Homo sapiens: one gene and its partners. The protein of the gene in region 3 purifies or fractionates together with the protein of the main gene of each other region. This does not show direct contact. Each region holds a gene or a part of one and is shown on either strand. Other genes may lie near its edges. The genes, in order: PLAA, GLMN, MILR1 and INPPL1.

What was found.
Region 1: the proteins of MILR1 (region 3) and PLAA purify together in Homo sapiens (co-immunoprecipitation; 3 studies listed by BioGRID and IntAct, with this or other methods). This does not show direct contact.
Region 2: the proteins of MILR1 (region 3) and GLMN purify together in Homo sapiens (co-immunoprecipitation; 2 studies listed by BioGRID and IntAct, with this or other methods). This does not show direct contact.
Region 4: the proteins of MILR1 (region 3) and INPPL1 purify together in Homo sapiens (co-immunoprecipitation; 3 studies listed by BioGRID and IntAct, with this or other methods). This does not show direct contact.

The regions. Positions count from the first base shown.
Region 1 is NC_000009.12:26,937,173-26,944,264, reverse strand, and holds part of PLAA (phospholipase A-2-activating protein), read left to right. Parts: intron 1-7,092. UniProt on the Homo sapiens protein: Plays a role in protein ubiquitination, sorting and degradation through its association with VCP. Involved in ubiquitin-mediated membrane proteins trafficking to late endosomes in an ESCRT-dependent manner, and hence plays a role in synaptic vesicle recycling.
Region 2 is NC_000001.11:92,260,911-92,268,002, reverse strand, and holds part of GLMN (glomulin), read left to right. Parts: coding exon 1-90; intron 91-1,261; coding exon 1,262-1,303; intron 1,304-1,409; coding exon of another isoform or gene 1,410-1,463; intron 1,464-1,510; coding exon 1,511-1,584; intron 1,585-3,364; coding exon 3,365-3,449; intron 3,450-4,270; coding exon 4,271-4,380; intron 4,381-5,076; coding exon 5,077-5,140; intron 5,141-7,092.
Region 3 is NC_000017.11:64,444,187-64,452,135, forward strand, and holds the start of MILR1 (allergin-1 isoform Allergin-1L precursor), read left to right. Parts: upstream 1-4,928; 5' UTR 4,929-4,982; coding exon 4,983-5,037; intron 5,038-5,127; coding exon 5,128-5,169; intron 5,170-7,949. UniProt on the Homo sapiens protein: Immunoglobulin-like receptor which plays an inhibitory role in degranulation of mast cells. Negatively regulates IgE-mediated mast cell activation and suppresses the type I immediate hypersensitivity reaction.
Region 4 is NC_000011.10:72,227,684-72,234,775, forward strand, and holds part of INPPL1 (phosphatidylinositol 3,4,5-trisphosphate 5-phosphatase 2), read left to right. Parts: intron 1-506; coding exon 507-570; intron 571-664; coding exon 665-815; intron 816-1,043; coding exon 1,044-1,164; intron 1,165-1,324; coding exon of another isoform or gene 1,325-1,406; coding exon 1,407-1,547; intron 1,548-1,781; coding exon 1,782-1,875; intron 1,876-1,979; coding exon 1,980-2,069; intron 2,070-2,240; coding exon 2,241-2,336; intron 2,337-2,437; coding exon 2,438-2,588; intron 2,589-2,678; coding exon 2,679-2,785; intron 2,786-3,112; coding exon 3,113-3,215; intron 3,216-3,309; coding exon 3,310-3,506; intron 3,507-3,814; coding exon 3,815-3,932; intron 3,933-4,556; coding exon 4,557-4,653; intron 4,654-4,942; coding exon 4,943-5,081; intron 5,082-5,191; coding exon 5,192-5,291; intron 5,292-5,391; coding exon 5,392-5,480; intron 5,481-5,757; coding exon 5,758-5,839; intron 5,840-5,971; coding exon 5,972-6,061; intron 6,062-6,597; coding exon 6,598-6,711; intron 6,712-6,843; and 2 more. UniProt on the Homo sapiens protein: Phosphatidylinositol (PtdIns) phosphatase that specifically hydrolyzes the 5-phosphate of phosphatidylinositol-3,4,5-trisphosphate (PtdIns(3,4,5)P3) to produce PtdIns(3,4)P2, thereby negatively regulating the PI3K (phosphoinositide 3-kinase) pathways.

The DNA of each region.
Region 1 (7,092 bases), on a different chromosome or scaffold from region 3:
AGTCCATTATCAAGGTATCGGCATCTTGAGAGGGCCTCTTTGCTGCTGTATCATCCTATGGTGGAAGGGTAGGAGAGCACACAGCAAGAGGCGCAGAGGGGCCAAACTTGCTTTTGTAACAAAGCCACTCTCTAACCCAGTCCCGCAATAATGACATTAATCTATTCATGGCGGCAGAACCCTCTTGATCTAATCACCTCTTAAAGGTTCTACTTCTCAACATGGTTGCATTGAAGGTTAAGTTTCCAGCACATGAACTTTGGGGGACACGTTCAGGCCATAATAGAATATTTGTGTGATTTTGTTTTTTTGACACAGGGTCTTGCTTTGTTGCCCAGGCTGGAATGCAATGGCATGATCACTGCCTTATTGCAGCCTCGACCTTCTGGGCTCAAACAATCCTCCCACCTCAGCCTCTTAAGTAACTGGGACTACAGGCAAGAACCACTATGCCCAGCTAATTTTTATTTATTTATTTTTGTAGAGATGAGCGTCTTACTAGATTGCCCAGGCTGGTCTCAAACTCCTGGGCTTAAGCAATCCTCCTGCCTCAGCCTTCCAAAGTGTTGGGATTAAAGGTGTGAACCACCACTCCCAGCTCATAACAGCATATTAATAGAGTTAATGAAATGCTATAAATGTTTGGAGTGAAGTCGTAAATGAAATTTGCTTTCCCATGTAGCCAAGTGGTAAATGAAATTTACCACTGTAAATTTGAATCAGTACCACTGATTCAACTTCAAATTCTTTGTTCATTACTGAATTGCCTCTTACTGAATCTGACCTGGTCTGTCTACCTCTGATGCAAATGAATTTACCACTGCTTTCCATGTATGTTGTTGCTAAGGTTCTAGATCAGGGTAGTAAATGTAGGGATGGACTGGGAATAATGGGGAAAGTTAGTTCTAGGGAGGCAGAAATAGTTCTGTTTTAGAGTAGACTAAACCAGGTACCTAGTCTTTCACAAAAGCCCTTTGAAAACCCAGAAAGTCTTTGGACCTTCAGAGTGGAGACATATCTGTTGGTTGGGCATTGAACTGAGCCAGCAACATGCCATTGTTTCAGACTACTTCAGGTCTCTATAAGCTAGCTTCAAGCTAAATTACATTTCCCAAGTCTGTCGTTGACTTCTGGGTGGGGAGAGATGAGTGAGATAGGACTTCAGCAGCTTTGCCTTTATATTGCCTTGCCTTTTGAAAAACGACCCATGCTTGAAGACACATCTTCAGATATAGGATCTGATTATATTAATCTATATTAATAGATTTTTTAGTTGTAATCTATTAGTTCCTACTGTAGAATATGAGAATTTAGCTCTCTTTCTGCCTTCCACTCACCCCATCACGTATGCATCTTTTTCTGTGCCTTTTTTTTTTTTTTTTTTTTTGAGACGAGTCTCGCTCTGTCGCCCAGGCCGGAGTGCAGTGGCGCTGTCTCGGCTCACTGCAAGCCCCGCCTCCCGGGTTGACGCCATTCTGCCTTAGCCTCCCGAGTAGCTGGGACTTTAGGCGCCCGCCACGGCGCCCGGCTAATTTTTTGTATTTTTAGTAGAGACGGGGTTTCACAGTGTTAGCCAGGATGGTCTGGATCTCCTGACCTCGTGATCCGCCCGCCTTGGCCTCCCAAAGTGCTCGGATTACAGGCGTGAGCCACCATGCCCGGCCTCCGTGCTCTGACTCTTATAATTTAAGCTGTGGAATAATCTATGATAACTCTTCCTCAACAATTTTATGATCTGCATGTGGCTAATAATTGTTTTATTTTGGTTTTCATTTGCTTAGCTTACTATGTATTTATCACTGAGTCAATTTCAAAGTCTTTGTTCGTTACCGAATCACCTCTTAAGGCCTTTAGATACATTGGATATTTTACAATTTCCTCTCCTGACAATGCAAACTTTCTGACCTGGTCTGTCTACCTCTGATGCACAACTAATCCTAGGATTTCCCTTCATTGTTGTTTCCAAAACAACTTTTTTGAACCTCATATGTTGGATTTTTATTGTCAGTATCCTTTAGCTTTCTCTTGGTTGGTTTTCTTCCTTGTTGCCTTATTGGAACATAACCTCTAAGAGCTTCCTGAAATGTAGTGCATCAGTAATAAATGTTTTAAGACCTTGCAAGTCTGAAAGTTATTTTATTTTGCCTTGTTACTGGCATGATAATTTGAATGGTTGTAGCATTCTAATTTTAAAATAATTTTCTTTCAGAATTGTGATGGAATCCATTGTATTTCATCTTCTAGTGTTACTGTTGAGAAGTCTGAAGCCATTCTGATTTTTGAACTATTTTTTTTTTCTTTCTGGAAGGCAGTCTACTTCTATCCATTGTTCCAGGCCATTGGCGGGCCCTTTTAATATGAAAACTCATGTCCATAAATTCTGGGAAATGTTCTTCAATTAATTCTTTGGCTGCTTTCTCTTTATTTTTTCTGTCTTCTTTTTTCTGGAACTGTTTTTATTCAGATATTGAACTTGCTTTCTAAATTTCTCTCTTTTTTTTTTTTCTTGGCTGTAATCTCTAGCAGGTTGCCTTGACTTTGTGAAATTATGTCCTTGTTTCATGGTTGCAATATCTTATACCTCTAAGGATGATAATGACAATTTAAAAAAATGTTTTAAGGTATTTCCTCCTTAATGGTCTGTTTTCCTCCATATTGGTTTTTTTCTCATCTCTATTTGTTTTGATCACTGTATTTCATGCTGGAGGCTTTCCCCAGATGTCTGGTAATCTTTATTGTGTGCTCAGTGTTATGGGTAGAGAATTAAGAAGCTCCTGGGAGATCTGTGCTCCTGGATGGGGCTTGCTGGTTGTGAGTTTTACTGTTGAGTTATCTGGTAGGGCCATTATATTGGGCTGATCTGCTGCCTAGAGGATGAGGGTATGGTTTCCAGGGTTTTCTTTTGGTGGTCTTGGGCTCCAGTAGGAATATACACATTCTTCACACTCCCAAGACTCAACTATCCTTATGTCCCCCCATTCAAAGATTTTCTTTTTAAAGAAAAAGCTTCAGACTTTTGCTGAGTACTAGCAGGACAGTTGTCTGGCTGGGTTGTCTAGCTGCACATCCCTCCCCCACCCCCCGTGTTTTGTTTTTGTTTTTTTTTTTGTCTTAATACCTTAAGTATTTTTTAAAATCAGTTTAAGAAATACTTAATGCTAACCATTTAAAACATTGTGCTAGGGACTTGGGAAGACACAAAGAACCTAATCTGGATTCTGCCATTAAGAACTTCACAGACCACTACCGAAGATGCACACAAACATCTATGCTTTGAAGTGTTAAGGGTTACACATAGTGGGTAGATTTAGTGGTTTACATAATACAGATTTTAAAACATGTTCTATCTTTTGACTTCCTCTGGGCTTATTGATAAAATGGTTTCAAAAGCATTAAAAAACAAAAACAACACCCCCTAAAATGAAGTGAACAAGTTGAAATTGGTTACTACCAGGTATCTTTCTTTGAAGACTTTTTCATAATGCTTCAGATTCTGAAGACTTTCGATTAGTCTTTCTTATCTTAGTTCCTGCCTCTTTGTCCTCACCTCTGGAGGTATATAGTGCTGTTAATTCTTTTCCTCCAGTTTTTTTATTGTGATACAATACACAAAACATAAAATTTGCCATCTTAACCATTTTAAACTGTACAGTTCAATGGTATTAAGTATATTCATAATGTGTAACCATCACCACCATCCATCTTTTAACTCTTTTTATCTCTTTACACTGAAACTGTACCTGTTTAAGCAATAACTCATTGTCTCCACCCCCAGACCCTGGCAACCACGATTCTACTTTATGTCTGTATGATTTTGACAGCTCTAAGTTCCACATATAAGTGGGATCATACAGTATTTGTGTTTTTATAACTGGCTTATTTCGTTTAGCACAATGTCCTCAAGGTTCTTCCATGTTGTAGCATATGTCAGAATTTCCCTCCTTTTTAAGGCTGAATAAAATTTCATGTTTATACCACATTTTGTTTATTCATCCATTGATGGACACTTAGGTTGATGCCACATTTGAGCTATTGTGAATAATGCTACTATGAATATGGTTATACACATATCTCTTTAAGATCCTGCTTTCATTTCCATTGGGAATATATCCAGAAATGGAATTGCTGAGTCATATGGTAATTTTATTTTTAATTTTTCTAGGAATTTCCATACTTTTTTCTGTAGCAGGTGTCTTTGCTTTCACGTAGTATATTCTGTATGTCTGTTAGTTCTAGTTGATTTATTTTGTTAAGTCCTCTTTTTCCTTACATGTTTTCTGTCTGATTATTCTATCCATTATTGAGATTGAGATATTGAAGTCTTCAACTATTATTGTAGAACTATCTATATATCACTTCAATTATGTCAGTTTTTGTTTTATATATTATGTGCATAAATGTTTATAATTGTTATATCTTCTTCCTGTACCGAACTTTTTATTAATATATAATATCCTTCTTTGTCTCTTGTTTTCTTTTTTTGATTTAAGGTCAATTTTGTCTAATGTTAATATAGCTGCTCCTGCTTTCTTTTGTTTGCTGTTTTCATGGAATATCCTGTTTCATCCTATCACTTTCAGTATATTTGTGTCTTTGGATCTAAAGTGAGTCTCATAAACAGCACCGAGCTGGATTATGTTTTTTAAAATGGTTTCTGCCAATCTTTGTCTTTTGATTGGAGAATTTAATTCATTTACATTGAAAGTAATCACCGATGCCATTTTGCTGTCTGTTTTCTATATGCCTTAAAGTTTGTTTGGTTTTTTTTTTTTTTTTTTTTGGTCTCTCATCTCCTGCATTACTGTCTTCTTTTGTGTTTAGTTGATTTATTTATTTATATGTTTGTTTATTTATTTATTTTATTTTTATCTTTTTTTGAGACGGAGTTTCAGTCTGTGGCCCAGGCTGGAGTGCAGTGGCGCAATCTCGGCTCACTGCAAGCTCCACCTCTTGGGTTCACGCCATTCTCCTGCCTCAGCCTCCCGAGTAGCTGGGACTACAGGCCCCTGCCACCACACCTGGCTAATTTTTTGTATTTTTAGTAGAGATGGGGTTTCACCGTGTTAGCCAGGATAGTCCCGATCTCCTGACCTTGTGATCCGCCGGCCTCAGCCTCCCAAAGTGCTGGGATTACAGGCGTGAGCCACGGCGCCCGGCCTAGTTTATTTATGTTTAAATTCCTTCCCCATTTCCTTAGTGTATATTCTATTTTTGTGTGTGTTTACCATGAGGATTATATTTAATATCCTAAAGTTGTAATCCTCTAATTTGAATGTATACATTTAACTTCAATAACAAACAAAAATTCTTCTTTATAGCTCCATCTTCACCCCTTTTGGTTGTTGGTGTCACAGAATTACATCTGTATGTACTCTGTGTCCTAAAAACATAAAGTAATAATTACTTTAAATGCCTTAATTTCTGAAATTATGTAGGAAAAATTTGGAGTTACAAACCAAAGTTACAATATCATTAGCTTTTAGGCTAATTTTTTTAATGTAATGTTTCTTAAATGACATAGAAATCAAAAGGTAGAGTTATAAACCACTATCGTATTTACCATTATTGAGATCTTTATTTCTTCATATTGCTTCAAGTCTGTCTAGTGTGTTTTCATTTCACTGTGCGAGAAGGCTCCTTTAAGCATTTCTTACAGGGAGGTCTCATGGCAGCAAACTCCCTCACCATTTTTTTTTTTTTTTTTTTTTTTAAGAAATGGTGTCTTACTCTTTTGGCCCAGGCGGGCATACAGTGGTACAGTCATAGCTCACTTAAGTCTCAAACTCCCAGGCTCAAGGGATCCTCTCGCCTTAGCCTCCCAAGTAACTGGGACTACAGGTGTGTACTATCACACCTAGCTAATGCTCCAAAAAAATTTTTCAAGATGGGGTTTCGCTATGTTGACCAGGCTGGAATGCAGTGGCTGTTCTTGAGTGTGGTCGCAGCACTCTGCAGCCTCCAACTTCTGGGCTCAAGCGGTTCTCCTATCTCAGTCTCCTGAGGTGCTGGGACTACAGGTGTGTGCTACTGCACTCAGTTTGACCTCCAAAGTTTTTGATGAGAAATCTACTAATTATATTATTGAGGATCCCTTGTATGTGATAAGTTACTTCTTTCTTACTGCTTTCAAGATTCTTTGTATCTCCCTTTCTTAAGTTTGAATATAATGTGACTTGGTGTGGGTCTCTTTGAATTTATCTTCTTGGAGTTTGTTGAGTTTCTTTGGATGTTTATATTCATGTCTTTCATCAAATTTGGGATGTTTCCAGCCATTATTTCTTCAGATATTCTCTCTGCTCCCTTTCCCCTCTCTCTAGGACTGCCACAATCTGTATGCTGGCCTACCTCATGTTGTTCCACAAGTCCCTTAGGCTCTGTTCATTTTTTTTTTTTTCAGTCTTTTTTTGTGTTCTTCAAACCTGATAATTTCTACTGTCCTATGTTCAAGTTTGCTAATTATTTCTTCTTGCTTGAATCTGTCTTCAAGTTGTCTAGTGAATAATTTCATTTCAGTTATCATACCTTTCATCTTCATAATTTCTTTTTGGTTTCTTTATAGGTTTTCTGCCTCTTTACTGATACTTCAGTTTTCTTCATGCATAATTTTCTTGACTTTCTCCATCTTCCTTTAGTTCTTTGAGCATGTTTAAAACAGTTGTTTTAAAGTCTCTGTCTAGTAGATCTGCTGCCAGGTCTTTTTCAGGGACAGTGTCTATTGACTTAATTTTTCCTTTGAATGGGCCATACTTTTCTGTTTATTTGTATGCGTGTGATTTTTTTGTTGTGGTTGAAAGTGAACATTTAATCTAATAATATAACTCTAGAAATCATATTCTTCCCCTTTTCCAGGGTTTGCTGTTTTTTGTTATGTTTTTGTGTATTATCTTTTTGTTGTTGTTGTTGTTGAAGGGTGTCTTTGTTTCAAATATCGGGCTAAGATGTAAACTTAGTCTTCTCAGTCTTTTCTGAGCCTGTGCTTTTCCCTGGGCATGCACTTTCACTTTCTAATTTTTTCCATATATGTAGTTCCTTTTGAATATCTTAGTCTTTATTATCTTGCTCCCAGAAGAGGAAAATGAAGGTGTTAGGGGA
Region 2 (7,092 bases), on a different chromosome or scaffold from region 3:
GAGCTGCTGGAGAATAGTTTATTGAGAATAGAAGACAATAGTCTACTTTACCAGTACTTAGAAATCAAGAGTTTTCTTACTGTACCTCAGGTAAATAAAATATGTATTCTAATATTGAAAATAGCCCTTTGCCTGTTCTGAACTTAAAGTAAGGTCTTTTCTGATTCCTTTCCCACTCTTTTCTCTGCAACCTTTGAAAACTCTGGTGTAATGCTGTCCAGTAGAACTTTGACAATATGAAAGCCACTAGCCAAACTGAACACTTGAAATGTGACTAAGGAACTATTTTTTTTTTTTTTGAGGTGTAGTCTTGCTGTGTCGCCCAGGTTGGAGTGCAGTGGTGCTATCTCAGCTCACTGCAAGCTCCACCTCCTGGGTTCATTCCATTCTCCTGCCTCAGCCTCCCGAGTAGCTGGGACTACAGGCGCCCGCCACCACACCCAGCTAATATTTTTGTATTTATAGTAGAGACGGAGTTTCACTGTGTTAGCCAGGATGGTCTCGATCTCCTGACTTCGTGATCAGCCTGCCTCAGCCCCCCAAAGTGCTGGGATTACAGGTGTGAGCCACCACACCCAGCCGGAACTAAGTTTCAAATTTAAATTTTAATTTATTTAAACACGAATAGCTATTAGAGGCCACCATTATTGATAGCACAGCATCCAGTAGAAAAGCATAACTTTCTTCTTTTAACACTTTATTTCTGTAGGGATCTTGGAAAATGAAGCTTCTTTATGTTTCTCATAACTCAAGTTCTCAGGACTCCATCTAAGGCATCCACTGACTCATTACCAGAAAGACTAATACACATTGTGTTTTTCCCTCCTATGGTTTATTTTGCCCAATCCTCTTTGTTAGTTATGATATCCAAGGAAATCCTTAGATTTCAGTGTGGGAACTGGTTTTCCTAATATTTAAATAGAAAAACATGGTTTTTGTTAACATATTGTTTGATTGTTTTTAATTAATAAATTATATTTCTGTAGATTTGATTTCATTTTCTTGCCACTGTAGACATAATTGAAAATTATCGTTTGCTTTTAAAAGTACACTGTGTGACACTCTACTCAATATCACTTAAAAAATCAATTGTAGTTAGCTTTCTGGAATGGAAGGCTTAGGGAAAAATTAATTTACTTCACTTTTAAATCTCCTACCCTCACTTCTCTGAATTTTTAGTATCCTATTGATGTATTATAGTTGTTTGTTTGCAGTCAGTATAATCTGTTTACATCTGAATTTTACATTTTTTTATTTCCAGGGCTTAGTGAAAGTAATGACACTTTGCCCCATTGAGACACTGGTATGTAAATATTTGGTGACTAAAGAATAATGAGTTACAGTGAGAAAATTTGACAAATAATTTAATTTTCTTTTTAAAAATTTTAATTTGTGAAATTTTTATTTAGGAGGTACAAGTGTGGATGTATTACATGCATAAAATGGATAGTGATGAAGTCTGGGTAAGCTTTATTCATTTTATATAATAATATTGTTTGTTCCATTTTAGAGGAAAAAGAGTTTAGCTATGCTTCAGCTGTATATTAACAAGTTGGATTCACAAGGCAAATATACATTATTTAGGTATGTATCAAGCATGGCTAATTGCTAAGTGTGTGGTTGATTAAAAGTCATGTTAATGCCATGTAATTGTTTTAGGGCATAGTATGTCGGTATGTTTTACATGTAATTCAACTCTGGTTGGAACCCATATTATAAATTCTCAGTGATGGCTAGAGAAAGGGTTAATCAAATATTTCAGACATACTATATATATGTCTATATTTTGTATGACTAATAGTATATATTGCAGTTCAATCAATTGGAATACTCTAAATTTGAAATAGACTTAAAAATAATTAAACTGAGATTGATGATGCTCCTGCTGGAACTTTATGTATGTCACTAATCTCCATTACTCACAGTTCAAATTGATGGCTCTGGAATTACAACTTTGATAGGCTATGCACTATGTTAATAGTAAGAGCTTACTAATACTGCTCTTTGAGGTGGATAAGATTCTAGCAACTCTCTAAGTTAAAGATTGGTAAACTTTCTAATTAATTTTCTGTGAAGAGCCAAATAGTAAATATAGGTTTTATGGGCTATACAGTCTCTGTTGCAAGTGCTCAACTTTGACTTTGTATTGGGGATGGGTGTGTTCCAGTAAAACTTTATTGATAAAATTGGGCATCAGGCTGGATTTGCTAAAATGTCTTACCTGGGATTGGCCAATATTAGTACTGTTCTTTTTTGGCGGGTGCAGCAGTGTGATCATGGCTCACTGCAGCCTTCACCCTTGGCCCCCCAGCTTCAGGTGATCCTCCCGCTTCAGCCTCCCAGGTAGCTGGGACTACAGGTGCATGCCATCATGCCCAGCTAATTTTTTTGTGGAGATGGGGTTTTGCCATGTTGCCCAGGCTGGTCTCAAACTCCTGGGCTCAAGCGATTCACCCACCTCAGCCTCCCAAAGTGTTGAGATGACACGCATGAGCCATCATGCCCAGCCAACACTCTTGATTCTATCTTTTCTTGTTTTCTATTGATAGTAAGAGCAAGTTTATGAAATCTCAATTCTTAGGTATTATACCGGCTTTCCTGTTCTGTTCTATGTGTATCTCTACCAATAAATCCCCTTTTTTTCTTAAGCTAGTCATATCTAGTTTTTTTTTTTTTTTTGCAATTAAGCTACTCTAGCACTGGACTACTTTCACAGGAAATAATTTGGGGATTTTTTAGACCATTATGTTAGTGCCCTTTCTTGCCATGTTAAATTATTGTAACTATGTTCATAAAAATATTCAAATTTTGGTTTGATAGAAATGGCTTGTTGGAAGATCCAGTTATAAATAAGTATTTACCGGCCGGGTGTGGTGGCTCATGCCTGTAATCCCAGCACTTTGGGAGGCTGAGGCAGGCGGATCACGAGGTCAGGAGTTTGAGACAAGCCTGGCCAACATGGTGAAACCCTGTTTCTACTACAAATACAAAAAATTAGCCAGGCACGGTGGCGGGCGCCTGTAATCACAGCTACTCAGGAGGCTGAGGCAGGAGAATCGCTTGAACCCGGGAGGCGGAGGTTGCAGTGAGCCAAAATTGTGCCACTGCACTCCAGCCTGGGCGACAGGGCGAGACTCTGTCTAAAAAAGTAAAATAAAATAAATAAGAATTTACCATTTAGTGAGAGCAATAACTATTACAGGTGACTTTGTAATTGGTTGATGACCTTGCTAATTACCATTACTGTGGGGTTTTTATTCCTAGAAGTAACACATGGCCTCTTTGAATTTGTAAAACTTTTATCACCATTTAATTCTAATGCTGTCCAGGATAATTTCACATCTATTGTAATTTTGCTTTCAAGGTGCTTATTGAATACAAGTAATCACTCAGGTGTGGAGGCTTTTATTATTCAAAATATCAAAAATCAAATTGACATGTCATTAAAGGTAAGAACATAGCCAAAGTGTCAATTACCAATTTATTTCGTAGGGTATATTTATTCATATGTAGAATACATTAATGTGAGTTATTGCTCTATCTCTAGTATTACTATTACTTAAATATTATTAAGGCATATTTTTTCCCCTATTTCTACTATGTTTTAAAAACTCTGAATTTGGAAATTTAGTTAACTATAAGTTTAAATTGTATTCTTTGAGGTTTTGGTTTTTGTTTTTGTTTTTTTTGAGACAGGGTTTCACGCCTGTCACCCAGCTTGGAGTGCAGTGGCATGATCTCAGCTCACTGCAGCCTCCACCTCCTGGGCTCAAGCAGTTCTCCCAACTCAGCCTCCCGAGTAATTGGGACTACAGGTGTCCACCAGTGCGCCTGGCTGAATTTTGATTTTGTAGAGATGGAGTTTCACTGTGTTGCCCAGGCTCGTCTTGAACTCCTGATCTCAAGTGATCCACCCACCTTGGCCTCCCAAAATGCTGGGATTACAGGTGTGAGTCATCACTCTGGGCCTCTTTGAGCTGATATTGTGGCTTATTTTTGCTTTGTTATATGCTTCTCAAAAATGAATGGAAACTTAAGTCTCTTCTGTTTCTGAGTGCTCAGTAATTCTAAATGGAAAACAGAGTGACCAGTGTTCTCAAACTGGCAGGGTTCGTTCCTGGTGTCTGGAAAGTGAATGAAAGTACGGAAATTAAAGTTAAAAACTGTATTTTAAATGTGCAATTCTTCATTTTTGTAGTGTCAAGGTATTAGAAAAACACATGAATTACATGAATTATAAAGCTTTCTCAATTTTTCGTTTGCTTTTCAGAGAACACGTAACAACAAATGGTTTACAGGACCACAGTTGATTTCCCTTCTTGATTTGGTACTTTTTCTCCCAGAGGGTGCAGAAACAGATTTACTGCAAAACTCAGATAGGTGAGGTGACCATTACCAAAGTTCACATAGTAAATTCAGAATAAAATGTGAAACATCTGCTTAGGGAACCTAAAGTAATAAAATGTCTTTTCCTGTGATTTTATGATCTATGGCTAATTCATTAAGTTACATAAAGATTTTTCATATTTAAGTGATTTGATAATGTGTAGAAACAAAATTAAAACCTCCTCTTTCTAGATGAATGACCAGCACTATGATTTGATAGCTTTTATGTACCCAGCATTCCATAGAAATTTGCAATGACAGCACTTGTGACTTAAAACTAAAAATCTGTGTATGTAATTTATGTGTTTAGGTTTTGTTGTTTTATTGTTTTCCAGGTCATTTTTTTTTTCATATAGAACATATAATTTCAGTTTCAGTATACTGGAATGGATATTGAGAAATGGTTTAAAGCATTTAAAAAGTAATCTTAAAATTCAGAAAGCAAGAGATGATGCTCTCAAATATTAAAGATAACAAGGCTTTCTTTAAACAAGGATGATAATTTTCACAATTGTATGATTTAAACAAATGGAAAACAGTGATAAGTTATTACTACTCAAAAAGATATTAATGGAAATAGTTTCTATTGGCAAACCTAATTATAAAAATATGACCAAAGTTTTAGCTTATTGAGATTGCTGTTGACTATATAAAACCATACTGTAAGTAACATATATTTTTAATTAACAGGATTATGGCTTCATTAAATTTATTGAGGTATTTGGTTATCAAAGATAATGAAAATGACAATCAAGTAAGTGAAGTATTTGAAAAGAAACTGTGAGTATATTCAAAAGGCATAAGGAATGTTTCAGATATTCAGTACCTAAAGCCAATATTTAATATCTTACCCAGATATAAAGGCCGGGAAGAGTGCCAACAATTATTCTGAAACCTGAAGTTAATTCCCAGGAGCATTTACCACCCCACATCCAGCTTTCCTTTCCCTTTCCATTTCCTATTGTACGTCTGCTTTCTTGCTGAAAGCACTTAGTCCTGTTGGGTGGATAAGTTGCAGGTCCTAAGTCAACTAACCTTGTGGAGCTCAACGTACATATGGTGTCTTGTTCAGTTTCCTCCACCTATAGCTCATGAGCTGTATAAAATCATCTGATATTTTAATATTGCCTCATCAGACATGACAAATTGAAGCATTTTCAGCACTAAAACAGAATTTGTTAACAGCACCTTTTAGATATGTTTAGGAAGTTGGATTTTTTAAAAATAGCACATCATTAGAAGTATTCAATAAATAGAGAAGTATTCAATAAATAGAAAACTATTTGAGGGAGATTTGTCATACAGTAAAATTATATTTGCTTTTTATCTTCTCTTTCTACCCTGTTCTGATCATTGCTTTCCCTATATGTGTCACCTCTATTAGCTAGAACTACCTGAATCATGTGTTGTTAATTGGTTTTTTTTTAGTAATTCATTTTTATATAAAGATGCCAAAGAAAATTTTTTTTAAATTAGGTAAATCGTGATTTGGGATGAAGGTTTATGAGAAAAGTAGCAGTCTCTTTCCTTCCTGACAGATCTATAGTAGATTCAGTGATTTGAACCCCCGTTCATCCCTCTTCAGCTGAAAATAGCTATTTGCCATCATTGACTAGTGCTTACTCTGTATCAGGTGCTATTTTTTTTTAACATTTTGTTGTGAAACTTTTCAAATGTACAGCAAAGTTGAAAGAATTTTATAGTGATCATTGGTTTACCCACCACCTAGAGTCTATGATTCTACTGTACTAACTTCATCATGTATCTATCACTCCACCCTCTGTCTATCACTCCGTCAGTCTATTTTTTGATGTATTTCAAAGTAAACTGCAGACGTCAGCATACTTTCTCCGAAATATTTCAGCATGTATTTCATTACATTGATTAAATATTTGTCTGTAGTTTTTCTTTGAAGTAAAATTTACATAATGAAATGTTCAAATTTTAAGTGTATATTCACTGAATTTTAACTAATACATAGATCTATATTACTCAAACCCATATCAATATAGAACATTTCCAGCATCACAAGAGGTTCCTCATACCCCTTCCTAGTTAATTCTGACCTCGTTGTGCTACTCACCCCTGCCAGGGACAACCACTATTCTGCCCAAGTGCTGTATATCATTCATTCTTCAGAGAGCGTCTCGTTCTCTTGCCCAGGCTGGATTACAGTGGTACAATCATGGCTCACTGCAGCCTCGACCTCCTGGGCTCAAGAGATCCTCCCACCTCGGCCTCCCAAAGTGCTGGGGTAACTTCCAGGCATGGGCCACCATGGAAAACCAAGAAAAGTACTCTTTATTTTTCACTTTTCATAGATAATGTAGGTGAAAAAAGTTCATTAACTTGCACAAGGGCAAACATCTGGAAAGTGGTAGAAATAGCTATGACCCCAGGCAGTGGCCAGAACTTTCTAAATCACAAACTAAATCCTGATTCCTGAAGGAGCTTGTGATAAAAATTGAAAAGCTACAATATAAAATTCAGCAGCAGTAGAGGCCCTGAGACTTCAGGAAGGTGGCCTTAGGGTAGGGTATGAGTTTTTATTTTTTTAGTAATCAAGAAAGGCTGTACCTACTTGAGAGATTATCTGACTTGCCTGACAAAAAGAAAAGGAATCTTGTTGATTAGGATTGATAGGTGTGTTAGATATGGAACACAGAGTAATACAAAGGCAGCAGATTGGTCTCTGCTTAGAGAGGG
Region 3 (7,949 bases):
CCAACAAAGAATGTATGCAGGGGACGGGGTGCTAAAGACATTCCTGGGGGCAGGGACAAGCGGAAATGAATTATATTCATGCCTATTGGATATTTTCTTTGGATTTTGTATGCTGTTTCGATTTTTATAATTTTTTTTCTTAAGGAAAAAAACACATATTTTTTTCTTAAGGAAATAGACACTGGCCAGGCGTGGTGGCTCACGCCTGTAATCCTAGCACTTTGGGAGGCCGAGGCAGGGGGATCACCTGAGGTCAGGAGTTCGAAACCAGCCTGGCCAACATGGTGAAACCCCATCTCAATTAAAAATAAGAAATAAGCCAGGCATGGTAGTGCATGCCTGTAATCCCAGTTACTTGGGAGGCTGAGGCAGGAAAATCGCTTGAACTGGGGAGGCGGGGAGGCGGAGGTTGCAGTAGGCCGAGATTACACTATTCCACTCCAGCCTGGGCGACAAAAGTGAAACTCTGTCTCAAAAAAAAAAAAATAGACACTGTTGTTGCAAGCCTATGGGTTGCCTGAGGGCAAGTATGGGCTCCAGGTAGGTCTTTTGAGGAAAGGATCTTGTTTTTATCTTTCATGTAAAAGTTACTTTATCTTTCTCAATACCTCAGTGGTTTTGAACCCAAGCCTCTGGGAAATGTCCCAACCTCCTGTCCTCACTCAGTGCACCATACTACCAGGCTTAGAGGAGGCTCTTTCTCCTTATGGAGGACCAAGGAAAGGTGTTGTCAAGGTCTGCCATTATCCCATCTTTCCTCCTTCTCCATAATAGGAATATTAATGCAGAAAGAAATAATTGAAAGAGGAGCGGCCAGGCGCAGTGGCTCATGCCTGTGATCCCAGCACTTTGGGAGGCCAAGGAGGGCGGATCACCTGAGGAGTTCGAGAACAGCCTGGCCAACATGGTGAAACCCCGTCTCTACTAAAAATACAAAAATTAGCCAGGCGTGGTGGCAGGCACCTGTAGTCCCAGCTACTTGGGAGGCTGAGGCAGGAGAATTGCTTGAACCCAGGAGGCAGAGGTTATAGTGAGCCAAGATCATGCCGTTGCACTCTAGCTTGGGGGACAAGAGCAAGATTTCATCTCGAAAAAAAAGAAAGAGGAGCTAGAATAAGAAAATAAAAGCTGGAGAGAATGTGGAGAAATAGGAACGCTTTTACACTGTTGGTGGGAGTGTAAATTAGTTCAACCATTGTGGAAGTCAGTGTGGTGATTCTTCAAGGATCTAGAACTAGAAATATCATTTGACTCAGCAATCCCATTACTGGGTATATACCCAAAGGATTATAAATCATGTTACTGTAAAGACATATGCACACGTATGTTTATTGTGGCACTATTCACAATAGCAAAGACTTGGAACCCACCCAAATGTCCATCAATGATAGACTGGATTAAGAAAATGTGGCACATATACACCATGGAATACTATGCAGCCATAAAGAAGGATGAGTTCATGTCCTTTGCAGGGACATGGATGAAGCTGGAAACCATCATTCTCAGCAAACTATCACAAGGACAGAAAACCAAACACCACATGTTCTCACTCATAGGTGGGAATTGAACAATGAGATCACTTGGATACAGGGAGGGGAACATCACACACTGGGGCATGTCGGGGGGTTGGGGGTTAGGGAAGGGATAGCATTAGGAGAAATACCTAATGTAAATGATGAGTTTATGGGTGCAGCAAACCAACATGGCACATGTATACCTATGTATCAAACCTGCACATTGTGCACATGTACCCTAGAACTTAAAGTATAATAATAAAAAAAATAAAAATAACATTCTACTCTCCAGATATAGCTATTGTTAACATTTTGAGAAAATATCCTTCCAGATAGTTTTTCTCTTTCTTTCTTTCTTCCTTTCCTTTCTTTTCCTTTTTTAATTTAGAGACAAAGTCTCATTATGAGTCTCCCAAAGTGCTGAGAATACAGGCATGAGCCACTGTGCCCGGCCTCCAGATAGTTTTTCTATGTATACAAATTATGCACTTTCTTATTTAGAAAAATGATTTATGTTATTACAACTGTTAATAATACCTTTTCTCTTTTCTTAAGTATATTGTGATTCTCTTACCACATCATGAAATGTTCTTCTACATCACCATTAAAAATTCTTTTTTTTTTTTTTTTGAGACAGTGTCTTTCAAAAGTGCAGTTCTGAATCAAGGCAGCCTTGAAGTCTTGTTATTATGGCAAGCCCTCCAGTGCCAGGAGAACTGAGGTAGGAGTAAACTCAGATCAGCCTTTGAAATAGAATGTGTGAGGCCAGGTGCAGTGGCTCATGCCTGTAGTCTCAGCACTTTGGGAGACTGAGGTGGGTAGATCACTTGAGATCAGGAATTTGAGACCAGCCTGGTCAACATGGCGAAACCTCATCTCTAGTAAAAATTAAAAAAATTAGCTGGGCGTGGTGGCAAGTGCCTGTAATCCCAGCTACTTGGGAACCTGGGAACTGTGGAGGTTGCAGTGGCCCGAGATGGCGCCACTGCAGCTATTACTCCAGTTTGAAAATACTAGAAGTTGCCAATATATATTTTTTCCATTGCCAGACTTGTCTGCAATTTGTACTGGATCTGATAGAGAAACCATTTCCATGGGTCTATATGAAAATGTGGAGCCGGGGGTAGTGGCTCACGCCTGTAATCCCACAACTTCGGGAGGCCGAGGCAGGCAGATCACCTGAGGTCAGGAGTTCGAGACCAGCCTGGCCAATGGGGTGAAATCCCGTCTCTACTAAAAATACACAATTTAGCCAGGTGTGGTGGCACGTACCTGTAATCCCAGTTACTTGGGAGGGTGAGGCAGGAGAATCCCTTGAACCCAGGAGGTGGAGGTTTCAGTGAGCCGAGATAGCGCCACTGCACTCCAGCCTGGGCAACAGAGCGAGACTCCATCTCAAAAAAAAAAAAAAAAAAAGAGAGAGAAAGAAAATGTGGGTGCGGGGAATGATTCTATGGTTGTCTGTTCTTTTCCAGCTGGCCAGCAGTGGTAGCCAAAAAGTGACAGGATGCTGATGAAAAACATTGCAGACGTGAAGAAAAGAAAAAGTTGATGGAATTTTGCACATGTATCTGACAGTTCACCCATCCAAACTTTTATAAAGTGCTGTAAAGTTGTTGTAGTAAGGGTGGGGCATGGTGGTTCATGCTTGTAATCCTAGCACTTTTGGAGGCCACACGCAGGAGAATCGCTTGAGCCCAGGAGTTCAAAACCAGCCTGGGCAATATAGTGAGACTTCATCTCTATAAAAAAGTTAAAAACCTAGTAGTGTATGGTGGTTTGTGCCTGTGGTCCCAGCTACTAGAGAGGCTGAGGTGGAAAGATAGTTTGATTCTGGTAAGTGGAGATTGCAGTGAGCCAAGATGGTGCCACTGTGCTCTAGCTTGGGAGACAGAGCAAGATTCAGTATCAAACCTCCTAGCTAGAGGATGCTAGCTAGGTGACGCTGAGTCAATAAGGAAGGATTTGGTTACATCTTGGGACCTAAGGTACAGAGATGAATGTCCCAGCTCAAGGCTGCCCCAGCCATTCAACTCCTTGCTTCCTCTCTTGGTGGACCTGTCAATTCTTGCAAGTGTCAACCAGCTGTCTTGCCCACCTAGCCCTATAGTCATACCTTTCTATCCTTTTGGTGATCTCCACTCCATCAAGAAGTGGCTCTGCACATTCTATTTCAACTGACTTTTTTTTTTTTTTTTTGAGACAGAGTTTTGCTCTATCACCCAGGCTGGAGTGCAGTGGTGCAATCTTGGCTCACTGCAACCTCCACCTCCCGGGTTCAAACGATTCTTCTGCCTCAGCCCCTCAAGTAGCTGGAATTATAGGCACGCATCACCACACCCAGTTAAGTTTTTTGTATTTTTACTAGTGATGGGATTTCGCTGTGTTGGCCAGGCTGGTGTCAAACTCCTGACCTCGGGTGATCCGCCTGCCTCAGCCTTCCGAAGTGCTAGGATTACAGGCATGAGCCACCGCACCCAGCCTGCACGTTCTATTTCAAAGGCTGATCTAAGGTAACTCCTACTTCAGATCTCCTGGCACTGGAGGGCTTGCCGTAATATCAAGTCCCCAAGGCTCCCTTGATTCAGAAATCACTGAGGCAGCAGCACCTTGTACAGATATTTCTCAGCCTTCACTGTGCGTAAGAATTGCTCAGGGCCCTTGTTTAAAAAAAAAAAAATCAGCGTCCTGGACTTGAAACCCAGTAAGTCTGGAGTGGGGTCTAGGAATCAACGTTTAACAAAAGCAGGCATTTTTGGCCAGGCACAGTAGCTCACACCTGTAATCCCAGCACTTTGGGAGGCTGAGGCGGGAGGATCACTTGAGCTCAGGAGTTTAACACCAGCCTGGGCAACTAGACCCCTGTCTTTACAAATAAAAATAATTAGCCAGTCCTGATGGTGCACACCTGTGGTCCCAGCTACTCAGGAGCCTGAGGTGGGACGAGCACTTGAGCCCAGGAGTTTGAGGCTGCAATGAGCTATGATCACAGCACTCCACTCCAACCTGGGTGACAGAGTGAGGCCAGTCTCAAAAAAAAAAAGCAGGCATTTTTGATACAATATTTGTATGTATCTGCTTAAGACAGTCGGTTTGCTTCCAAAGACTAAATCAAACTTCCACCAAACTCCTTTTGGCATAGACTGAGTCCAGAGCAAGGAGATCAGATGGGTTTACATAGACAATGTAACAGTCAGATTTACCTCTTCTCTTTCCCAGCCAGCATGGGACGATGTGGGGGTGTGGGGGGGTGGGGGGGGCGGGGGAGTGGCAATCTACCAAATATCTCTCTTCTTACAGGAACTCACAGAGGAAGACAGATTGGTCGAACAAACCAGTATTATGCAAACCTCATCCAAACCCTCTGATTTCCTTAACTTGGCTAAGAAAAAGAGGAAGTTCTCCGAGTTACTCACCACTGTGGTTCTACTATGCCTTCTGACCCCGTCTTGGACTTCAACTGGGAGAATGTGGAGCCATTTGAACAGGCTCCTCTTCTGGAGCATATTTTCTTCTGTCACTTGTAAGCCCCCCTTATCATTCTGAGGCTCGAACCTCCAAGCCAACGTGTCATGTGGAAAGTGAGCTTTATCGTGTTCCTTTTCTGTTTCAGGTAGAAAAGCTGTATTGGATTGTGAGGCAATGAAAACAAATGGTAAGTTTCATTTACTTCTTTCTTATTGAAACCATTTTCACTGAAGTGGTGAGACAGTCTGATTGCAACATAAGCGTCCATTCAAAAGTGTTTCTGAGCTTTTATGAACAACCAAAGAACAGTCTTTTCAATTATCTATCATTTAAAATAAAATGATTTTAGGGAGGGGATTGCAGCATTTTTTTCTGAGACTCAGTGAGAAAAATAATGAAATTTGTTTTCACAATGAAAGTTTTCTAACTTTCCTTGTTATTGTTGTTTTATGGTTGTTGTGTTTTAACTAGAAAGCCAACACACAGGCTGGGTGTGGTGCCTCCGGCCTGTAATCGCAGCACTTTGGAAGGCTAATGGGGTAGGATTGCTTGAGCTCAGGAGTTTGAGACCAGCCTGAACAACATAGTGATACCTCGTTTCTTAAAAAAATAAAACAAAATAAAAAAACCCACAGAATTATTGTGAAATAATTCAAGCAACACTAGAAATATACATTGGGAAGTGGTCTAACCTCTGGTTCTACTAGTTACTAGCCAGCAGCCTGAGCTCATGACATACCCAGTTTGACCTTAATTTCTTTCTTTCTTTCTTTCTTTCTTTTTTTTTTTGAGATGGAGTCTCAGTCTGTCGCCCAGGCTGGAGTCAGTGGTGCAATCTCGGCTCACTGCAACCTCTGCCTCCCAGGTTCAAGTGATTCTCCTGCCTCAGCCTCCCGAGTAGCTGGGACTACAGGCGTGTGCCACCAAGCCTGGCTAATGTTTTGTATTTTTTGTAGAGACGGGGTTTCACATCGTTAGCCAGGATGGTCTCGATCTCCTGACCTCGTGATCCGCCCACCTTGGCCTCCCAAAGTGCTGGGATTACAGGCGTGAGACACTGTAATTTATTTCATCTGTGAAGTGGGCTAATAAAAGCACCTACCTGGTAGGCTAGTGTGCAGATCAAATGAGACAATCCCTGCTCCTCGTCACAGTGCCAGGCATATGGTAAACCATCCGTAAGTGATAGCCAAGGTGGTGGTTGTTACTGTATAAAATGTAAAAGTTCTGTTACAATCCTCCTCCAATTCTTCTCCCCTTCCTATCCAGAAGCAGCCGTTATCAACAGTCACTTTATATTCGTTATCTTTTTTTGTTTGTTTGTTTTTGAGACAGAGTTTCACTCTTGTTGCCCAGGCTGGAGTACAGTGGCACAATCTCGGCTCACTGCAACCTCCGCCTCCTGGGTTCAAGGGATCCTCCTGCCTCAGCCTCCCGAGTAGCTGGGATTACAGGCACGTGCCACCATGCCTGGGTAATTTTTGTATTGTTTTTTGGTAGAGACGGGGTGTCATCATGTTGGCCAGGCTGTTCTTGAACTCTTGACCTCGTGATCCTCCTGCCTCTGCCTCCCAAAGTGCTGGGGTTACAGGCATGAGCTACCACACCAGCCTTAGCTCCTCTTTTTCAACAGCTGCATGGTATTTTAAGACTCAGCCATGATTCGTTTAACCATCCTTATTTATTGCCCTGCTTTTTGGGGGCAATATAAACAATGCTACAATAAACATCCTTGTACACAACGTCCTTTGTGGATGCATGAGAGCTTGAAAGCATCTCTGTAGAATGAAATTCTAGAATTGAAATTGCAAGGTCATAGGGCATACACATTTAAATTGTTACAGACCCTGCTAAGTTGCCCTCCCAACAAGGCTGATCGTATCCTATCAGTCACCAACGGTGGGTGAGTTTCCCCACCCACTCCCCAGTGGTGGATATAATCACTTTTACTTTTAAATTTTATTTAGGGTTTTTTTTTTTCTTTCTTTCTTTGAGACAGAGTCTCTGCTCTGTCGCCCAGGCTGGAGTGCAGTGGTGCGATCTTAGCTTTCCGCAGCCTCGACCTTCCAAGCTCAATTGATCCTCCCACCTCAGCCTCCTGAGTAGTGCCATACAGGTACGCACCATCATGCCCAGCTAATTTTTGTATTTTTAGTAGAGACAGGGTTTCACCATTTGCCCAGGCTGGTCTCGAACTCCTGGACTCAAGAGATCTGCCTGCCTCAGCCTCCCAAATTGCTGGGATTACAGGCATGAGCCACCATGCCTGGCCAATCATTTTTAAACTTTGTACCAATCTGATGAGTGAAAAATGATATCTCAGTGTTGTTTTAATTTGCAGTTGCCTCATTACTTGTGAAGTTGAGCATCTTTTTCATGTTTACTGGCCACAAAAGCTCTAGCATTCCTAGATAAAAAAAACTTAGGGATGGCTATTTGGTTGGAAAGGTAGTTTAGGTCTTGTCTTAAAGTTGAGTTTATATGGCGGGGCACAGTGACTCACACCTGTAATCCCGGCACTTTGGGAGGCTGAAGCAGGCAGTCACTTGAGGTCAGGAGTTCAAGACGAGCCTGGACAACATGGTGAAACCCTGTCTCTACCAAAACTACAAAAATTAGCTGGGCATGGTGGTGTGTGCCTATAGTTCAGCTACTCAGGAGGCTGAGGCAGGAGGATCAGTTGAGCCTGGAAGGTGGAGGCTGTGGTGAGTCAAGATGGTGCCACTGCGCTCCAGCCTGGGCAACAGAGTGAGACTCTGTCTCAAAAAAAAAAAAAAGTTGAGCTTATATAAGACTGAGAAAATGTTAATTGTCCAGATCAAAGAGTGGGAGGAGAGTTTACTGCATTTTTAAAAGCATTTTTGAAGAGTCTAAATCTGTCTTCCACCCAAGCCATCCATTGGTCCCAGCTATGTTTTTTTTTTTTTTTGTTCTGTTTTGTTTTTTAAAAATTAGAGACGAGGTCTC
Region 4 (7,092 bases), on a different chromosome or scaffold from region 3:
TAGGGTGATGCCCCCACACTCCTCGGCACAAGTGCCCTAGACATACCCGACTCCAGCAGAGCCAGAGAGCAGCATAAACACAGGAGGCATACACACGTGTTAGCACGTTGCCCGTGTGTGCAAATGGGCTAACCAGGCTTCTGAAGACTCTTACTCTGGCGGGGAGCCCAGACTGGTACCACAGCCCAGAGGGGCTGTTTAGACAGCTGTGGAGGCCACAAAAGAGCTCCCTGTTGCTTCTCAGGCCCTGCCCTGTGGTGGGTGTGGAGTCTGTGTAGGTCTGGTGGGGAGACGGGGGTGTTCTGGTCATTCCTGCCCAATAGGCAACACCAGGAGGGTGGAAGTGGACCGGCCACATCATTAACCCTGTGCAGCCTGGGCAGGTGGTTTTAGGGAAACCAAGCTGAGGGGGTTGGGGTGCTGAGCTTGCTGGCAGGAGGAAGGGGTGCTTTGGGTCTTAGACCCCAGCCTGGGGGTGACAGATTCTGGCCCTGCCTTGGCATCAGGTATCAGAAGCATGTGCACACGTATCGCATTCTGCCTGATGGAGAAGATTTCTTGGCTGTGCAGGTAGGAGCTTGGGCCCCTGACCCCTGACCTTGATCCAGCCTAGGGCTTGGGGACCTGCTGGCTGACCCTTCCTCCCACCCTTGCTGGCCCACAGACCTCGCAGGGTGTGCCTGTGCGCCGCTTCCAGACCCTGGGTGAGCTCATCGGCCTGTACGCCCAGCCCAACCAGGGCCTTGTGTGCGCCCTGCTTCTTCCTGTAGAGGGTGAGCGAGAGCCGGACCCACCGGATGACCGGGATGCCTCAGGTACTTCCCAGTGTGCAGGTCCCCTCCCTGCCCCTGTCCCTTGGCTCTACCTGCCTCTTCCCATCCCCCCTTCTCAACCCCACCTCTCCTGTAACCCCCTTTCCCTTGGCCATGATGCCGGGGCCCTTTAACCCTCTTTCCATGGAAGTCACTTTACAGCTGCATCGTGCCTCCTACTCCACTGAGTGTGGGAGGCCCAAACGGCTGCCCACTGACCCCTGCCCACAGATGGGGAGGATGAGAAGCCCCCGCTGCCCCCGCGCTCTGGCTCCACCAGCATTTCTGCCCCCACTGGGCCCAGCAGTCCCCTGCCAGCTCCTGAGACTCCCACAGCTCCAGCTGCTGAGAGGTGAGACCCCCATCCCATCCACTGAACAGGAGACCCTTTCTCCTCTGAGAACTATTTCCCTACCAAAGGTGGGGAGGCCTTCTAAGACCCCACCAGGGACCCCCACCCCACCTCAGCCCAGAGGCAGATAACCTGATCCATCCCGCCCTGGTTGCCACAGGTACTATCTCCTCTAGGGATGGGGCAGAGGTGCTGGGACAGGTCAGCAGGACCTCCACTGACTTCTTAACCCCTCCCCAAAGTGCTCCCAATGGGCTGAGCACCGTCTCGCACGACTACCTGAAAGGCAGCTATGGGCTGGACCTGGAAGCTGTGAGGGGTGGAGCCAGCCACCTGCCCCACCTCACCCGTACCCTCGCTACCTCATGCCGGAGGCTGCACAGGTATCTGGGACATCCAGCCCCATGTATTACACCCTTACCTCTGACCTGTCCTCACCTGCTTCCCGGCTGCACAGGTGCCCTGATCTCTGATCCTGAACAGTGAACTAGCCATTGCCTCTTGACTTTCCTCACTGGTAGCCTTTATCCTTGTGGTGAGGTTGAGGCTACACCCAGCGCCCCCTTCCCTATACTTAGGTCGGGGTGGGAGTTCTTTTGATCTGATGTCTTCCCTAGTGAGGTGGACAAGGTCCTGTCAGGCCTGGAGATCCTGTCCAAGGTGTTTGACCAGCAGAGCTCGCCCATGGTGACCCGCCTTTTGCAGCAGCAGGTAGATTGTAGGGAGACCTCTGGGAGGTGCGTTCGTGTTCTGGAGCTGGGTGGGAGGCTCTGCTTAGGTGACTCATGTACAAGCCTGGTTCTTCCTCCCCCCAGAACCTGCCACAGACAGGGGAGCAGGAACTAGAGAGCCTGGTGCTGAAGCTGTCAGTGCTAAAGGACTTCCTGTCAGGCATCCAGAAGAAGGTGGCATGATCTCTGACCCTTGACCCCCGATTCACTGGCCACTGTCATTGGCCTAGCACTGATCTCAACCCTCAGTCTACAACTTAACATTGGCCCCAAGGTCAATTGTGTCCCTCCCTGCCCCAGCCTTCAGTGTGTCCCCTGACCCCGCCCTGCCCTTGTTCCCTCCAGGCCCTGAAGGCCCTACAGGACATGAGCTCCACAGCACCCCCAGCTCCGCAGCCATCCACACGTAAGGCCAAGACCATCCCCGTGCAGGCCTTTGAGGTACATGGCAGTGGGGCCTCACAGGGCCAAGGGTGGTTGGAGGTGACCAGGGTGCTGCCTACTCCAAGGTCTTGTCAGCAGCCTCCCCACCTGGCCTACAGGTGAAGCTAGATGTGACCCTGGGTGACCTGACCAAGATTGGGAAGTCACAGAAGTTCACGCTGAGCGTGGATGTGGAGGGTGGGCGGCTGGTGCTGCTGCGGAGACAGCGGGACTCCCAGGAGGACTGGACCACCTTCACGCACGACCGCAGTGAGCCAGGGCCAGACCTGGGAGGGGTGGGCAGGGCGGAGCCCCTGGCCTAGGGGCACAGGCCCATGTGACCGGTCCTCCATGCCCTAGTCCGCCAGCTCATTAAGTCCCAGCGTGTCCAGAACAAGCTGGGTGTTGTGTTTGAGAAGGAGAAGGACCGGACTCAGCGCAAGGACTTCATCTTTGTCAGTGCCCGGGTGAGCAGCAGGCTGGGCCAGGCCACTGGGGACTGCGGGGGTCCCCCACATGGGTGCTTCCCATTGGAGGGTAAGAAAGGGAACACATGATGTAGGCATGCCATCCCTCCTGGCAGGGGTAGGTCTGACAGGGTAGAGGGTGTTGAGAACGGGTGGCCTGAGGGTGGATAACATTTGCCAGCACTGTTATATGCTTGAGCAGTGGGTATGCAGTGGAGAACCAGACAGACCCTCTCCTCATGGACATGAGCCAACTGGCAGGGTATCCCTGTGGACGGGGGGCTTCCTGGATGCCTACCCGCCCCTGAGTGGCTGCTGTTCCCCCAGAAGCGGGAGGCCTTCTGCCAGCTGTTGCAGCTCATGAAGAACAAGCACTCCAAGCAGGACGAGCCCGACATGATCTCAGTCTTCATAGGCACCTGGAACATGGGTCAGGCCCGGGCTGGGGCTGGGGCGGGAGAGAGGGATGGCCCCAGAGCAGGTGCCTAACCCCTCCAGACCCACCTCACCCCCTTCACCTCCAGGAAGTGTACCACCTCCAAAAAACGTGACATCCTGGTTCACATCGAAGGGTCTGGGGAAGACCCTGGACGAGGTCACAGTGACCATACCCCATGACATCTATGTCTTTGGGACCCAGGAGAACTCAGTGGGCGACCGCGAGTGGCTGGACCTACTGCGCGGGGGCCTCAAGGAGCTTACGGATCTGGATTACCGCCCGGTGAGGGGGGGTCATCTTGTCCAGGACCCTGTCCTCACACACCACCTCCAAACTAGCCTACTTGACTTCATGGGCAACCCTGGGAGCACAGCTTCACTGGCTTTTTCTCTGGTCCCTGAGCATATCCTTTGGGAGATCTGACCTGAGTCCTTCATGCCACGAGAGGAACCATTTCTCTCCAGTCCGTCAGGAAGAGGGGTGGCAAGCCTTCCTACCCTGTGATGGACACAAAAGTCTATTTATAGTGCAGGGGGAAATGCAGGCAGTGGGTGCAGCAGGGCAGTGGTGACCATGCACTCTCTACCCAGATTGCCATGCAATCACTGTGGAATATCAAGGTGGCAGTGCTGGTCAAGCCAGAGCACGAGAACCGTATCAGCCATGTCAGTACGTCCAGTGTGAAGACTGGCATCGCCAACACCCTGGGTAAGTGGGGCTGGCAGGTGCCCAAGAGTGGCAGCGTCTCTCTGTCCATGGCTTCTGCTTCCTCTCAAGCCTAGGATTGCCCCATTTTTGGTGATCTTAGTTTCCCCATATATAGGGTACTTTGAACTTTGAAAAACATATTCATATTCTAAATCTCTCCCAGCACCACTGGGAAGGCAAGGCCAGGATAATTACCCCCTTTTCACAGATGATAAAACTCAAACCCAGAGTGGTTGAGTGACCTGCCCAAGGTCACACAGCAAGTAAGTGGTGGAGCCAGGCATTGTGCCCAGGTCTCCTGATTTTCGGTCTGGTGCTCTCCCAGGTAGATTCTGCGCAGAATCTGCAGGGCCTTTCAGCTTCACCCTTGGGGTCCCCTGTGATCTCCAGGGGCTCTGCTCACACATACAGACAGACTCAGGCCATCCACACAGACCATGTGTGCCCAATGAGGACCCCCCCCTCCCCCAGGGAAGGTGTGGGTGTGTGCAGGGGCCTGCCCATGTCACAGCGTCTGGTGGGCTCAGCGGGAGGATCCTCTCACTGCAGCTTTGAGAGGCAGAAGGGAGAGTTGGGAGCCCTCTGAGGATGACCCAGGCCTTCCTCTCTTGCTTGCCTTAACAGGGAACAAGGGGGCTGTGGGCGTCTCCTTCATGTTTAATGGCACCTCATTTGGCTTTGTGAATTGTCACCTCACCTCGGGAAATGAGAAGACGGCTCGGTGAGGGGGCGCCTTTCCCATGGTCTCTTTACACCCATCCCATTCACCTGAGGCCTGTTCCCGCTCCCATACCCTAGCCCATGACCCTCCCGCAGGCCTGTCTCCAGAGACCCCCTGCTCTCTTATCCCAATTCAAGACCCTTCTGTTCCTGACCCTAACCTTGTCCCCAGGGGCCCGGATCTTTACCCCATCCCTGACTCCTGAGACTTCTTCCCTTTATGCCTATCCCTGACTTCTGGCCCTGACCCTGGGGATCTACCCCTCCCCACCACGCACCCCTCACCCTAGGAGGAACCAAAACTACTTGGACATCCTGCGGCTGCTCTCGCTGGGCGACCGGCAGCTCAATGCCTTTGACATCTCTCTGCGTTTCACACACCTCTTCTGGTTTGGGGACCTCAACTACCGCCTGGACATGGATATCCAGGTGCGAGCAGGGCCCTGCCATGGCTGTAGGGAGGCTAAGGGCCACATGGGCTATCACCCCTGGCTCTGGCTCCGGAGGAATGTTTCTAGCCTTTGTGTCCTCCACCCCAGGAGATCCTGAACTACATCAGCAGGAAAGAGTTTGAGCCCCTCCTCAGGGTGGACCAGCTCAACCTGGAGCGGGAGAAGCACAAGGTCTTCCTTCGATTCAGTGAGTGTGGGCCTGGTAGGTGGTGATCTGAGGGCTAGGAGACTTGCAGTATCCCTGGGTGTCAGGGCCCTGAACCCCACCTGTCTCCTGCTTTCCTTAGGTGAGGAGGAGATCTCCTTCCCACCCACCTACCGCTATGAGCGGGGTTCCCGGGACACATATGCCTGGCACAAGCAGAAGCCAACTGGGGTGAGCCAAGAAAACGGCATGGGCCTTGGGGGACCGCAGGCCTGCGATGAATCAAGAATTTGGGTCAAGGGTATGGGCCTCTGCAGCTTCCACTCCAGCCTCCATGGCCCCTCTGAGGCCTTTGGGTGATCCTGGGTATTTTGAGGATCCAAGAAGGGAGGTGGGTGCTAGGGCCTCTAGTAATAGAAGTGTGGGGACTCATCAGCTCTGGAGTGGGGTCCATGCCAAGCAGCCTCCTAGCTGTCAGCTCTAACCATGCTGCCATCCCCTGCCCCAGGTCCGGACCAATGTGCCCTCATGGTGTGACCGGATTCTGTGGAAATCCTACCCTGAAACTCACATCATCTGCAATTCTTATGGTCAGAGCCTCCCGGACAGAGTGATGGGAGATCTGGGGTGGTCACCATCTGGACTCTGCCCTAACCTTGGGAGGTGGGAGCCGAGGGTGGGAATATTCCCCCTGAGTCCCCATTCCTATCCCCTCTCCCCAGGTTGCACTGATGACATCGTCACCAGCGACCATTCCCCCGTGTTTGGGACATTTGAGGTTGGAGTTACCTCCCAGTTCATCTCCAAGAAAGGTGACTGTTCCAGATATGCTTGTGGGTGTGGCATAATCTAGGTGGGCACAGGTGGTGGCCTCGGGATGTACATAGGTTTGACTATGTAAGTGTGTGTGTGGGTGTGTGTACCAGTGAGTGCAGGAGTGTTTCTCAAGGTGTGATGTGTCAGGGTGTCTGTGCGCCTGGGCCATCACAAGAGTTGTGTGCCCATGAGTGTGTGTGCATACGTGAGTGTACACCTATCTATGTGTCTGTGTCTGTCTAGGGCCACGTGTGTGTCCCTGAGTATGCCTGTAGGTGTGGGAATCCTGCAGGCATTCTGGTCCCCAGCACCCTCTTCAATGGGTTTTTTATCCTTGGGTTGTCTCTTTGCTCTGGTCCAGGGTCTGGCCTCTGGAGATTCCCTGTTGGTGGCTTGGGACTGGGGAGGCCCCTCCTGGCCCTGCCTCCTTGCTCTGGACCCCTGATTTCCTGTCCCAGGGCCCTGTTTCTCTGTCCCATTCCTCCTGTGATCCTCTCAGTCCTCCTGTTTGTTCTCCTCCCTTTCTCCTCAGGGCTCTCAAAGACTTCAGACCAGGCCTACATTGAGTTTGAGAGCATCGAGGCCATTGTGAAGACAGCCAGCCGCACCAAGTTCTTCATCGAGTTCTACTCTACCTGCCTGGAGGGTCAGAGGCGTGGCAGGGGCTGGGTGTGGGCCAAGGAGGATGGGAGGCAAGAGGGTGCAGTCAGCCCCCTACTTAGGGGGAAAGGAAGCTGAGAGGTGGTGCTCAGTTGGGTGTCTCCCACCCCCACCCCAGAATACAAGAAGAGCTTTGAGAATGATGCCCAGAGCAGTGACAACATCAACTTCCTCAAAGTGCAGTGGTCTTCACGCCAGCTGCCCACGGTGAGGCTGTGGGCAGGGCCCCTGCTTATGGGTGAGGGCACAGAGAGGGGTACATAAGAGTTTATTGGAGAGCCTGCCTGGGAGGGAGTGTGGGGCCAGCAGAGAGAGAGAGAGAGAGTGTGTGTGTGTGTGTGTGTGTGTGTGTGTGTATGGGCATGGG